Homo sapiens: one gene and its partner. The protein of the gene in region 2 purifies or fractionates together with the protein of the main gene of each other region. This does not show direct contact. Each region holds a gene or a part of one and is shown on either strand. Other genes may lie near its edges. The genes, in order: POTEI and NUS1.

Region 1 (7,301 bases), on a different chromosome or scaffold from region 2:
ATCTATATCTAAATGCAGATAGGATCAGGGACCTCTCTTGAACATTAATGTCCAGGCATCTTAAAATTACACATAAGGCTTTCATAATCTGACTTCTGCCCCACTCTCCATCTTTAGGCCTTTTCCCTGTGTGCCCTTTCTCTGGCATTACTGAGCTGCTGGCAATGCCCTACTCACTCATCCTTCTATTGTAGGCAAATATTTTCACTCTTTCAGGCCTCGCTCCCGCTCTTGCTGCTGTGTGGCATGCCGTCACCCTTTCCTGCCCTCTACCCCTTTTAATCTGGCTAGTCTCAATATTTAAGTCTCTGCTTGGGCATGTTTTCTAGAAAAGCCATCCCTGACATGCTTTATTTTAATTGTTTTTAAACCCTAATGCCTAGCATGTATTTAGCAGGACTCAATAAGAAATTTCTGAGTAAAATGTGAGTAAGATGATGTGCAAGACTGTCCTCTGCAGTCTTGGAGCAGACGGGACAGACATGTGGAGGAATAATGTAGAGTTCAGGTGGTAAAGATGCAGTAGAAAAATCAGTGAAGTACTAAGGCAGCCTCAAGGAAGGAGGTACCTGTTTATCTGGGGAAAGACATGCAGAATCAAGGAAGACGTTCTCATAGCATTGTTTTAAAAGATAAAAATAAGGATAAGTGTGGTGGCTCACACCTCTAATCCCAGCATTTTGGGAGGCTGGAGCAGGCAGATCACAAGGTCAAAAGATCAGGACCATCATGGCCAATGGTGAAACCCCGTCTCTACTAAAAACACGAAAATTAGCAGGGCATGATGGTGCATGCCTGTAATCCCAGCTTCTCCGGAGACTGAGACAGGAGAATCGCTTGAACCAGGGAGTGTCAGAGGTTGCAGTGAGCTGAGATTGCGCCACTGCACTCCAGCCTGGTGACAGAGCAAGACCCTGGCTCAAAAAAAAAAAAAGAAAGAAAAATGAAAATAAATATGTCTGAATCGTGGAGGGAAACATTTTAGATATTGGGAAGAGATTGTACACTAATAAAGGTGTCAGTAGTAATTTTTGAAATCATTTGTAAGGTACTATTGTTGCAGAAAACAGGAGGCAGGAGAGACCAAGTGGGTGAAACAGGAGGATTTCATTTAGGTTCGCACCAGCTCAGCGGATTTGCATCCGAAAGCTGAGCCCTGAACAAAGACAGGGCTTGGCTTATGTAGGCAAGCTTACAGAAGCAGAACAAAGGCAGTTAATCATATAGTGACAGTTTTGCAACCTCAGCGTAGCTTATGACCTTGCAGCTGCATTGAAGGACAACAGGAACTTGCAAATAATATGCATTTGTAAAAACAGCTCTGAGTGAATGCTGAGGGGAAGGGGAGACAGTAAAGGATTTTGTTTTCTTAACCTTGCTGTGGGATGTCTGGAGCCCATACCTGTGGGCTCTGGCTTCTCAGGCAGGGTCACCATGACCTTTCCTGGGCCCTGCTTGTTACTATCCTTAGAGTCAGACTAGCTAAGTGCGGGAAAACTTGTTTCTCTTTAAAACTAAATTTCCTTTTCTTTACATTTACTGCTTCACTATTAGGAAGTGGAGAACAACATACTGTGTTACCTTATATGTTTCTACTGTATTTTAAAGTTGTGTTTCTGGTGGTTTTGTTCATTTATGTTGGGTGGATGAATTTGTGAGTGAATGACATCAGGTGTCTCCCCAAGTGGTTTGTTGAAGTTTGGGAGAATTATTTCCTAAATAACTATTTCATGAAAAACTAAACACTCAATTTATGAAATAAAATGTTGTCTTAAATCTATTTTTATAAAGGCAATAGTTTTTAACTGTTCTAAGTGGTTCATTTTAACTGAATATATGGATTTCTCAACAGAACAAGACTTAAAGCTGACATCAGAGGAAGAGTCACAAAGGTTCAAAGGCAGTGAAAATAGCCAGCCAGAGGCATGGGAAATTTTAAATTTAAATTTTTGATTTAATGTTGTTTTCTTTGCTTTAATAATATTAGATAGTCCAAATGAAATTACCTTTCAGACTAGGTTTTGAGAATCAATAGATTTTTTAAAGAATTTTTTAATAGATTGTTAAAATTTATTTTAATAAATTCAGTAATCTCATTAACAGAAGAATGGATTCTAATTTAACATTTGATATTTAACTTAAAAAACATAACCACTATAAAATTTAAAATACTCTTATTTTATAATATTTTTATTTAAAATATTCTCATCTGCCTTTTTGATTAGCTTATAGCTAATCTTTCCTTTTGGAATAGAGGCAAAAACAAATTTCAGAACTTTGTTCTTTTATTTTTACAACACCCGAACATGATGAAGAAGGTACATCAATTATTGGATTATGTTATTAAGCAATAGAATTATGAACAATGTAACTCTGATGGTCCCTGAGCTGGATTCATGGTTAAGGAGTAATCATGGCCAGTGATTGAAAATCTGCAGTTTTATATTGTCAGTCACTGATACCAAGGTTAAAAATATATTCTGCCTTATGGTCTCTCATTGACCTCAGCGTTTCTGTTCAGGGAGGGAACCAGGTCATAAAAGCAACACAGCTGCCTATTACAAGAATCATATCTTGCAGAATGGAACCTTTGGTGTTAGTGCACAAACACAATAACATTCTAATTTATTTCAGTTGCAGAAAATTAGTACATATTATTAAAAAAATCTTTATCCACTGTAATTAGTACACATTAGAATATATTAGAACTGGACTTAAGCAGATAATCTGGATACATAACACTATCATATGACAGTATATAATCTCAATTAAAATTTGAGAAATTGCATCTCTTTCTGTTTGGTGTTGATTTCGGCTCCTAATAATTTAAATGGTGCCTACAATCCAGTTAGGAATCTTTTAGAAAAGCACTTCAGTGCACTGTAGGGGCTCACTAGTTAGGGTTTCATGAGGTAAACTCTTTTCAAGTGAGGAAGATTTTGGAACACTACAAATCATCTGCTGATTCATTTTTGGTAGATTTAACACATAACAAGTTTAGTCCAAACAAATGGTGACCAAGTTAAGTTTGCTGGTTCACGTTTTTTTTCTTCGTTGGGCTAAGGTGAATTATTTTTCACATGTTAGTCAGAAGCCAGTAATGTGGCAGTAGCTAAACATAGATTAAAAAGTTAATTCTTAATTTTAATTATTATTTATTTAACAGTTAAATTTTAATTTTAATTATTTTCTAATTTTTCATCGTCCATACTTCATTAGTTAAGAATAAAATTTTTTTAAAACATGCGCTCCAAAAGAGGAGACATCACAGAAACACAACAAGCAAATTAACCTTCTGTTTTTGCCTCTGCAGAAAATGTCTCAAGAACCAGAAATAAATAAGGATGGTGATAGAGAGGTATACCTTCATATTCAAATGTTTCTGTTGAATTAGATTTTTACATTATGTTGTTTAACAAAATGTAGTAAGTGTAGGCATACATGATCCTATCATGTAAGTAGCATAAATCATGAGTGAAAAAGTTAATATTTAACTCAGAAAGAATTCTGTACTTTGAGTTTTCAAGAGATACAAAGCCTAGAGATATTCTTTGATTATTATGGAACAATCCTGAATGGTGCCATAAAATGCTAGGTAATGCCACTTTAGGAGCTTTGGACCAATCATTTTATCTTTCTTGGTTTTAGTCTGATTATCAATAGATAATGTGGCTAAAGAAGATAGCTTCTTATTCTGTGTATCTTCCAGCTAGAAAATTGTATGGCTATTCAATGTGAAATTTGGGGAGCATCTCATTTTCTGGAATTCCATGCTTGCACGTCAGCAGTTTCACTCTGCTTCTTGTGTTGTGGCAAACTTTGGCTCCCATTTTCAGTGAGCACCATCATGTTTTTGATATCCCAGCAACCAAATGAAAAAAGAATGCTCAAAGGCAGTGGGGTAGAAGAATATCTTAGCGCAGAAAAGGGCAAACTTCCTTTCTGTTCCTGAAGCCGCACAGTGTGTCATCCTCTAAATCTGACTGTTTAATGTAAAATCTAGGTGGTAAAGACAGAAGACACATTTTGCATCTTTGTCTTTTTATTTGCGTGTTCCCATGAGTCAAATGGGGTAAATACATACATAAGATTCTGAAGAGTGATTGAGAATAAAAGCATAAAATGAAGGAGGGCCCTTTTTGAATTTTGGAAAATTCTGTTTCATTCATTGAAACAGAAATGAAGCAAACTTTACAAAAATTTCTGTGATATATTAATGATATGATAATTACATCTTAAAGTTATATGGTAATATTTCTATATATATGATCAAATTTAAGTGTGAAATATTTTTAATGACTAAAATAATGACAAACTGAGTCAATTGATAGAATCAATTAAAAAGGTTCTTTTTATTCAATAAAGTGATAACTATCCTTAATATCCCACTCAAGGTTGAAGAAGAAATGAAGAAGCATGAAAGTAATAATGTGGGATTACTAGAAAACCTGAGTAATGGTGTCACTGCTGGCAATGGTGATGATGGATTAATTCCTCAAAGGAAGAGCAGAACACCTGAAAATCAGCAATTTCCTGACAACGAAAGTGAAGAGTATCACAGGTAAGCCTATGGCAACATTGAACAGGAGATAACTATGTGCTGTCAAACTAACCCTAGTTTGGGCTAATATTCATGATGAACAAATTTTATAGTTTTACTAGGATATTCAGCCTTGCCCGTTAATCAGAAAAATGAAAATCAGCGAACAATGAGTTACCATTTTTCCAGGCATTAATTTATTTGAAAAATAACCAGTATTGGCAAATGTGAGGGAAAAGGCATTTTCTTTTCTTTTTAGTGAACTTTTCTTTTAGTTTCAGGGGTACATGTGCAGGGTTATTATATAGGTAAAGTGTATCATGGAGATTTGGACTGCAGATTATTTCATCAGCCACATAATAAGCAAAACACCAAAAGTTAGTTTTTTGGTCGTCTCCCTCCCGTGACGCTCCACCTTCAAGTAGACCCTGGTGCCTGTTATTCTCCTCTTTGTGTCCATGAGTTCTCATTATTTAGTTCCCACTAATGAGTAAGAATATGTGGCATTTGATCTTCTGTTCCTGCATTAGTTTGCTTAGGATAATGGCCTCCAGCTCCATCTGTGTTGCTGCAAAAGAAATGGTTTCATTGTAAAAGACATTTCATACACTGCTGGTAAATACATTTTGAACATTAATTTAGTAGCATATTCACAAACACATGTATAACAATAAGGATATATAATATATGTAAAGGATATTTGTGTAGATGTTACATATATACTTATGTATAAGGACATTTATTACAGCATTATTATATCAAAAAGATGGATCCTTATCAATAGGAAATTATCATTATCAAAAGTAAATCATTACCAATAGGAAATAGCTCAATTTTCATACCCAGAAATTAATGTAGTATGCAACCATTTTTTACAAGTGAGGTTAGATCTAGAGTATACTGATTATTTCACAATTAAAGTGTATTTAAAGCATCAGTGATGACATCTTAAGAGTTCTTGTTAAAATTCTTGTAATATTTCCTGTGTTGCAAATGGAAGCTACATGCTATATTGATGCTGTACCTTGTTAGCAACAAGATTGCTAGTTATTAAATTTTTATGTCAGTGCCTGAGTGCTGAAATATTGGACCCTCAATCTGAATATTGCCAAGGGATTGTACATGGGGATCTGTATTTAATATAAACGTTTCAGTATATTGGGTAAAACTTTTATTAAAATGTATCAAAGGATCTTTCATCTGCTAAACCAGGAGTTGGCCAGCTTTTTCTGCAAAGAGCCAGTTAGTAAATATTTTAGGCTTTGTGGACTATATAAATTAATTTATTTTTGAGACAGGGTCTCACTCTGTTTCCCAGGCTGGAGTGCAGTTGTGTGATCATGGCTCACTGCAGTCTTGACTTTCTGAGCTCTAGTGATCCTCCCACCTCAGCCTCTCTACTAGTTGGGACCATAGGTGTGCAACATCACACCCAGCTAATTGACACTGTGGACTGTAAAGTGAATAAGCATGGCTGTGTTCCAAAATACTTGACTTACAAAAACAGGCAGTGGGCTGGATTTGGCCCAAGGTGCTAGTTTGCTGACCCTTGTGCTAAAAGGAAGGTGCTGCAAGTGAAGTGACTCTTATTTGTAAAAGTGCCCTGCGTGTGTGAAATTATCCTTCCTTTGAGAAAAGGATATATTTCAGTATTCACCTCACCATATTTTTCCACAGTGACTTCATATAATTTTAAAAATTTCATTTATAAAATAAGATTATTGTCTGCATTTCTCCCACTTTATTCCTGTTAATAGAACCCAGTATTTTGCTGTGATCAATTACTTTGTATATTTGATGAGTATCAGTTGTCCTAGAATTGGCTGATTTTATCAAGCAAGAAATACTCTCCTTGAAACTTTTAGTATTTCTTGGTCTTTATGCATAAGCATGAATAAAATGATAATCAGCTTATGTGTAATCTAGAAATGTTCAAGGCGACTTTTAGTTCTATAGTTTTAAGAATTTAACACCTCAGTCTGGCATTTTTAATGCCACATGTGTATAATTTTTATAACCTTTAAAATATATTATTGTTATATAAAATTTGAAAACTACACCTGTTATATAAAACTTGAAACTATTTGTCTATTACTTTTCCATGACTGTGGAAGAAAATTACAACATTCTCAGTCATGACTCCTAAGCATGATGTCCTTAAAAGAACTGTCCACACTCACGAACTCAAATTTTCTTTTCATTCACTCTTAATCTCACACCGGCGTCTTCAATTTCAGCAGTCCTCCAACATTGTTTTTCCTCAAGATTATCACAATTTTTTTTCTGTAAATTATGCATTTTTTCTTACACCTCATTTTATTTAATCTGTCAGCAATATTTGAGCCAGTGGAGGGCGTCTCCTCCCTAACGGCGTCTTCACTTGGCTTTCAGGACCTCACTCCCTCAAGCTTTTCCTCCTGCATTTCTAGTCCATTCATCATGGTCTGTTTTGCTTGCTCCTCCTCATCTTTCTCCTTTTGGACATTGTTGTTTCCCAGGGCTCAGTCCTCAATCTTCTTTCTCCTGACTTTTTCTTTTTCTTTTTTTGAGACGGAGTTTGACTCTGTCCCCCAGGCTGGAGTTCAGTGGTGTGATCTCAGCTCACTACAACTTCTGCCTCTTGGGTTTAAGTGATTCTCCTGCCTCAGCCTCCTGAGTAGCTGGCATTACAGGTGTGTGCCACCATGCCTGGCTAATTTTTGTATTTTTAGTAGAGACAGCATTTCCCCATGTTGGCCAGCCTGGTCTCAAACTCCTGATC
Region 2 (5,060 bases):
CTATTATCATTACCTATATCTACTTCTATTTCACGTAAAATAAAAAATTTGCCTGGCATGGTGGCACACAACCTGTCAGCCCAGCTACTCATGAAGCTGAAGTGGGACGATCGCTTGAGACCGAATTCAAGCCTAGCCTGGGCAATACAGTGAGATCTCATCTCTAAAAAAAAGAAGAAAGAAATTTAAGGCACTTATTAAGTATAGCTGTTACTGATAAATTAACACTGAAAAATACACATTTATTAAAATAAAGCACTCATAGAACCAAATCCATAAGATATAGCAATTGAAATAAATCTTTATCGGAATGGAAACATTACTCTATACAAGGACAGAACTATGCTGTTAGCATTTATCCATATTCTGAATTTTTCTTTTTTTCCAGGATTGCCTTTTCCAAGCCAGATGTTTTTCTTGTCCTTGTAACAGCAACTTAAATTACTAATACTAATGAAGGGGACTATGAACAGTCAATAGCAGATATTGCTAATAGTTTGACCTCAGAGTACATTTTATTTGTTGCAATCATCTGGATACGTCATGCTAAAATTCACTTAACAGTCCTTGAATCACTAGATGAGGGAGAGATGAGCATAAAATTATTTGAAGAATTTGGGCCAACATTAAATATTAAGAATAACTGAATGTGGACTATAATTTTTTAAAACATTTTATTTTCATGTGCTATTGTAATTTATATCCAGACACAATAATCAAATACAAAAGAGAATGCAAGACTCTCAATTTCTAGTTTATAGTTTTTTAAAAAATCTCTTTATTAACTTGTTACAGTAGAATACATTTTTTAAAATATAGTACAAAAAATTCTCGGTGATCACCAAAAATGTAATCAATAAGGTTACATTCCTTTGTTTCTCTGAATCTTCTTTTTCCTATAATGAAAAGTGTATTTTTTAAACCTTAAGAAATTCTTTTTGCACTACCTTTTCCTATCCATTGCATCATAGTTTATGTCCCACCAGTTAGGATCTTGGAGAACTGCTCACATTAATCTTGTTTCCTGGGTTTTATTTCAAACTGTCCTGAACTTTATAGTAATTTTTGCTAAAGGAAGTTCCTAGTAAGCAGTTATTTGCCTTTGGTAAACTTAATTTTAGATGAAAACTATGCACAAAAAAACAATTGTCTTATGATTAGACCTTCAAGTTAGGAGGTGAATAGTCTATGCAGCATAAGACAAACCATAACTCTTACCTTTAAATTTTCTCATTTGACAAGAACTATCAAATTCCTTTTTAAAAGAGTACACATATACGTTTTTAATTTGGAAATTTCATATTCGGTAAAAATTCAAATTTTAATTACTGTGGAATTTTGACAACTCCAGCAATGGCAAAGCTGAATTTATTTCACTATTATCTATCAAAAAGCAAGTAACATTATAAGATTCCAAATGTTTAACCTGGTAAAAGTGAGAATATATTTCAATCAAGAGCATACCATCTAAAAAAAACACTATTGCTATCTAGTCATATGCATTTCTTATTACATTTTTGCAGCCCCTAAGTGTTCAGAACAAATGTAGCATTCACATAATACTATAGTCAATGAAAAGAGTATATTCTTTTATTGGTTTTTGTTCATACATGTTAAGTTTCAACTTTCAATAATAAAATTCAATAAATTTGATTCCTTAATCATAAAAACTGGCTTTACACATTATTTACATATTGTCAAAGTCCATACAAAACATCACAAGGATTTGATTGACTCTATGCATGGTACCATCACACAGGAGGAGGGAGCTAATCCAGTAACATACATTCAAAGATTAAATTGCAGATATGCACAGTGTATTTGGCACTGTTCATTAATATTATAACACCTTCCTCTCAAAGACAGGCATTCTTAAGCGTTAGTCACGATATACCAGAATTTGCTATTCACATTAAAACCACCTTTTAAACTTTATAACAGTAACCGATTATTATAGTTTTAAGAAACAAAACACAATGAGAACTGGGAATGGAATTCAAATCCTCCAACTTCTTGCTATGCTCCAAGCTGCCATCCATAAAACAGGTTTAATTCGGTAATTTTTCCATTGTGGGGAGTGTCAACAAGAAACAATTTAAAGACAGTATTTTCCAATACAAATAAAGACACATACTTTTGTTTAAAATTACCAGTTCTTCTTGGGAGTGCAAAGGGAGCCTTGATGATGTACAACTTGTGATGCTTTTGGCAGGAATTACAGAACAACCAATGCCATTCAAGTTGTGGAGATTGTACTAGCAGGTGAACTCATAAAGAGAAGGTTCTGGAATGACTACATCTGAAATCAGAATCCTAGTAGTTTGTAGTTTGCCTCTTCCTAGAACTTCAAGAGACTCAAATCATAGGCTACAGATGTACTTTCAAGTATATACTTATGAATGGAAGGAGAAAATAAAAGCACGAAAATGCAAATATTAAACCTTTACTGGCTTGGGCTATATTCCAGTAGGTAATTTATTTGACTAACTTAACTTTAACAACGATTAAATCCCTTCATTTTAATCAGGTCCATTAAATTTCATTCATTAAAGCTATACATACTCCAGAATGTTTATAAGACATTTATACCTATCATGTTTACAAAAGGCATAAATTCAGTCTTCAGCTGCACTACAAATGCCTCAATATAATATAATCACAGTATAAGGAATCAGAAATTCTCTGGTTAGATATGCTGTAGCTTCACACAAAACTCTCAGTAATAAATTAAAACAAAAAAAAAAAGTCGTACAACGTATAATGGATTATGCAGTGCAAAGTAATGTCACTGGACCAAAATTTAGTTTAATCATTTTTATTTCAAGTGTATTTAAAAAATCATAAATGGGGTTTCATAATCCAAAGTTGAAACATTTATTCTTCATAGCTTCAGAATTTAACAACCAATTGTAGACCATGCTTTCCAAATCCAGTCTTCTTTGCTATTTTTCAAAACTTCTGAGATCTAGTATTAAACTGCTCCATTCTAAATGTATAGTTTTAGATAAGTATTGTACACTTGTTGATAAGGGTTTTCTGAAAGCAGTCTATCAAATATAAAGAATGGTTTCTATCTAAGAATCAGCAGTGAGGGAAGAAATATTAAACACCTATCAAGAAATCAATTATTCATTTTAAAAATAACAGAACCAGTGCTGCTCTCTGTCATAAAAGAGAACATGTAAAATTTATTTTTATAGACTTTGGTAATATTTTATTCCCCCACAGAGGCCTTCAATCCTACTTAAAGATATTTTACACACAGTAACCATCAGGATTTACTGAGTAAAAATCTCAGGTATTAACCATGCCCCTAAAATGTGCTATTCCAAAGAGGAACAGGTTACTTTTGAGGAAAAAAGCTGCCTTGGTAACTTCCCTCAAATGTTTATTTTAAATAAAAATGGTTGATGGAAATATTTTTTAAAAGAACTTTGGGTATAATATGGCATACTGCCCATCAAACAAAAAAGGAAATAAAACTTTCTTTCCATTTATAATAAGTTTTCCACCTTTACTATCAAGATTACAACTTATTGACCTTTTATGCTTGCTTGGTTTTTTTGACTGCCTAATCCAATGTTTAAATTTTTAAGTCTGCATTTCAATGTAGTAGGAGTTATTTTTCAAATAATCTTCAGAACCCAGAATACAGAGCAACTCTCAGAATACCAGAGCAACACTCTCAAGTCATACTTTTGAACCCAGAATACCAGAATACCAGACTTCAGAACCCAGAATACCAGAGCAACACTCTCAAGTCATACTTTTGACTACAATTAAGAGATGAAAATGGACGGATATCTGAAGATAGGTATTCCCTCTGCTCTGAAGGTGAGCAAGATTTTAACATGTGAGCAACACAGAACTCCACTCCTCTGGAGCTCCTTTCAACTCAGAATGCTTCAGTTCAGTAAGTCAATATATTATTCTTAAAAATTAAAGTTTGGTCACTAAGAAGGACTGAACAAAAATTATTCCCCTCCCGCCAAACACAACCAGAACAGTTCTAATCAGGCCCTCTTCTCCCCACAAAAATAGGGAAGTAGCTGGGCTGAAGACTTTAAGTGTGACATTTCAGTTCCTAAAACATCACTGCTATTTGCTCAAAGTTGTAGGTCTATGTATTTCCTTCTCCAATACGTCCCCATTTATAAGTTTATTTCCATACATACAAACGTGCACATGTGTGCACGTGCACACGCACACACACACACTCACTCTCAAGTAAGACACTTTTTTGTGTTTGTTGATAAATTATGAGGATTATGAACTAGGTGTGTACAGGGTTTCATAGGTGCTTTGTAAACATCAGAGTCACTTGGTTCCTTTCCTCCACAAGCCTCAAATCAAATTATGCAACCAATGACCACTACTTTCCCAGACGCTGTTCACAGGCTGCATATTGACGAAGGGCAGAGAAAAAGTCCTCATAACTGATGTTTAGGTGGGAAGGCAAAGAGCTGAAAAGAAAACACGGGGGGAGAAAAGCAATTAGATATACACTGTAATGTAGGGGGGAACCAGAAGATAAGGACCAAAAAGAAGTTAAGAATAGAATACACCAAATTATCCTCCACCAGACAGCACCATGACAGGCACGGAAAATGTCTTAATCATAATATGTAGACTGAAAGGGTGGGGCCCTGACAGAACTGACTGGGAAATAGCAGAGAGCCTCTGAGGCACCGAGGGGTAGTGGCACTCACTGTTTATTGACGAGTGTTCATTGAAGATAGCTATTCCCTCTGCTCTGAGGGTAAATTATAAGCAGAATATGCCAAACAATTCTACTAAGATTGTTCAGCTCATTGTGGACAATGAGATGACAAGGACACACAATGTCATCATCAACTAAAAAATTAATATGCCTCTTTTTCCACAAGAAAAGCAACTAGTAATGAGAGATTCATAACTTGTTAAAGCGTAAGCTCAGATTAATGCAAAGCTAGAGATCTATGTATAAAGGATCTCATTTAAATCCATTAAAGAATTTCTCCTTGGTCAGAGTAAAGCCAATATTACTTAGTTTAGGAAAGCCATGCTTAATGTTGGGCAGA

What was found.
Region 1: the proteins of NUS1 (region 2) and POTEI purify together in Homo sapiens (affinity purification with mass spectrometry; 2 studies listed by BioGRID and IntAct, with this or other methods). This does not show direct contact.

The regions. Positions count from the first base shown.
Region 1 is NC_000002.12:130,485,292-130,492,592, reverse strand, and holds part of POTEI (POTE ankyrin domain family member I), read left to right. Parts: intron 1-1,852; coding exon 1,853-1,923; intron 1,924-3,313; coding exon 3,314-3,358; intron 3,359-4,394; coding exon 4,395-4,561; intron 4,562-7,301.
Region 2 is NC_000006.12:117,706,328-117,711,387, reverse strand, and holds the end of NUS1 (dehydrodolichyl diphosphate synthase complex subunit NUS1), read right to left. Parts: intron 4,464-5,060; coding exon 4,373-4,463; 3' UTR 661-4,372; downstream 1-660. UniProt on the Homo sapiens protein: With DHDDS, forms the dehydrodolichyl diphosphate synthase (DDS) complex, an essential component of the dolichol monophosphate (Dol-P) biosynthetic machinery.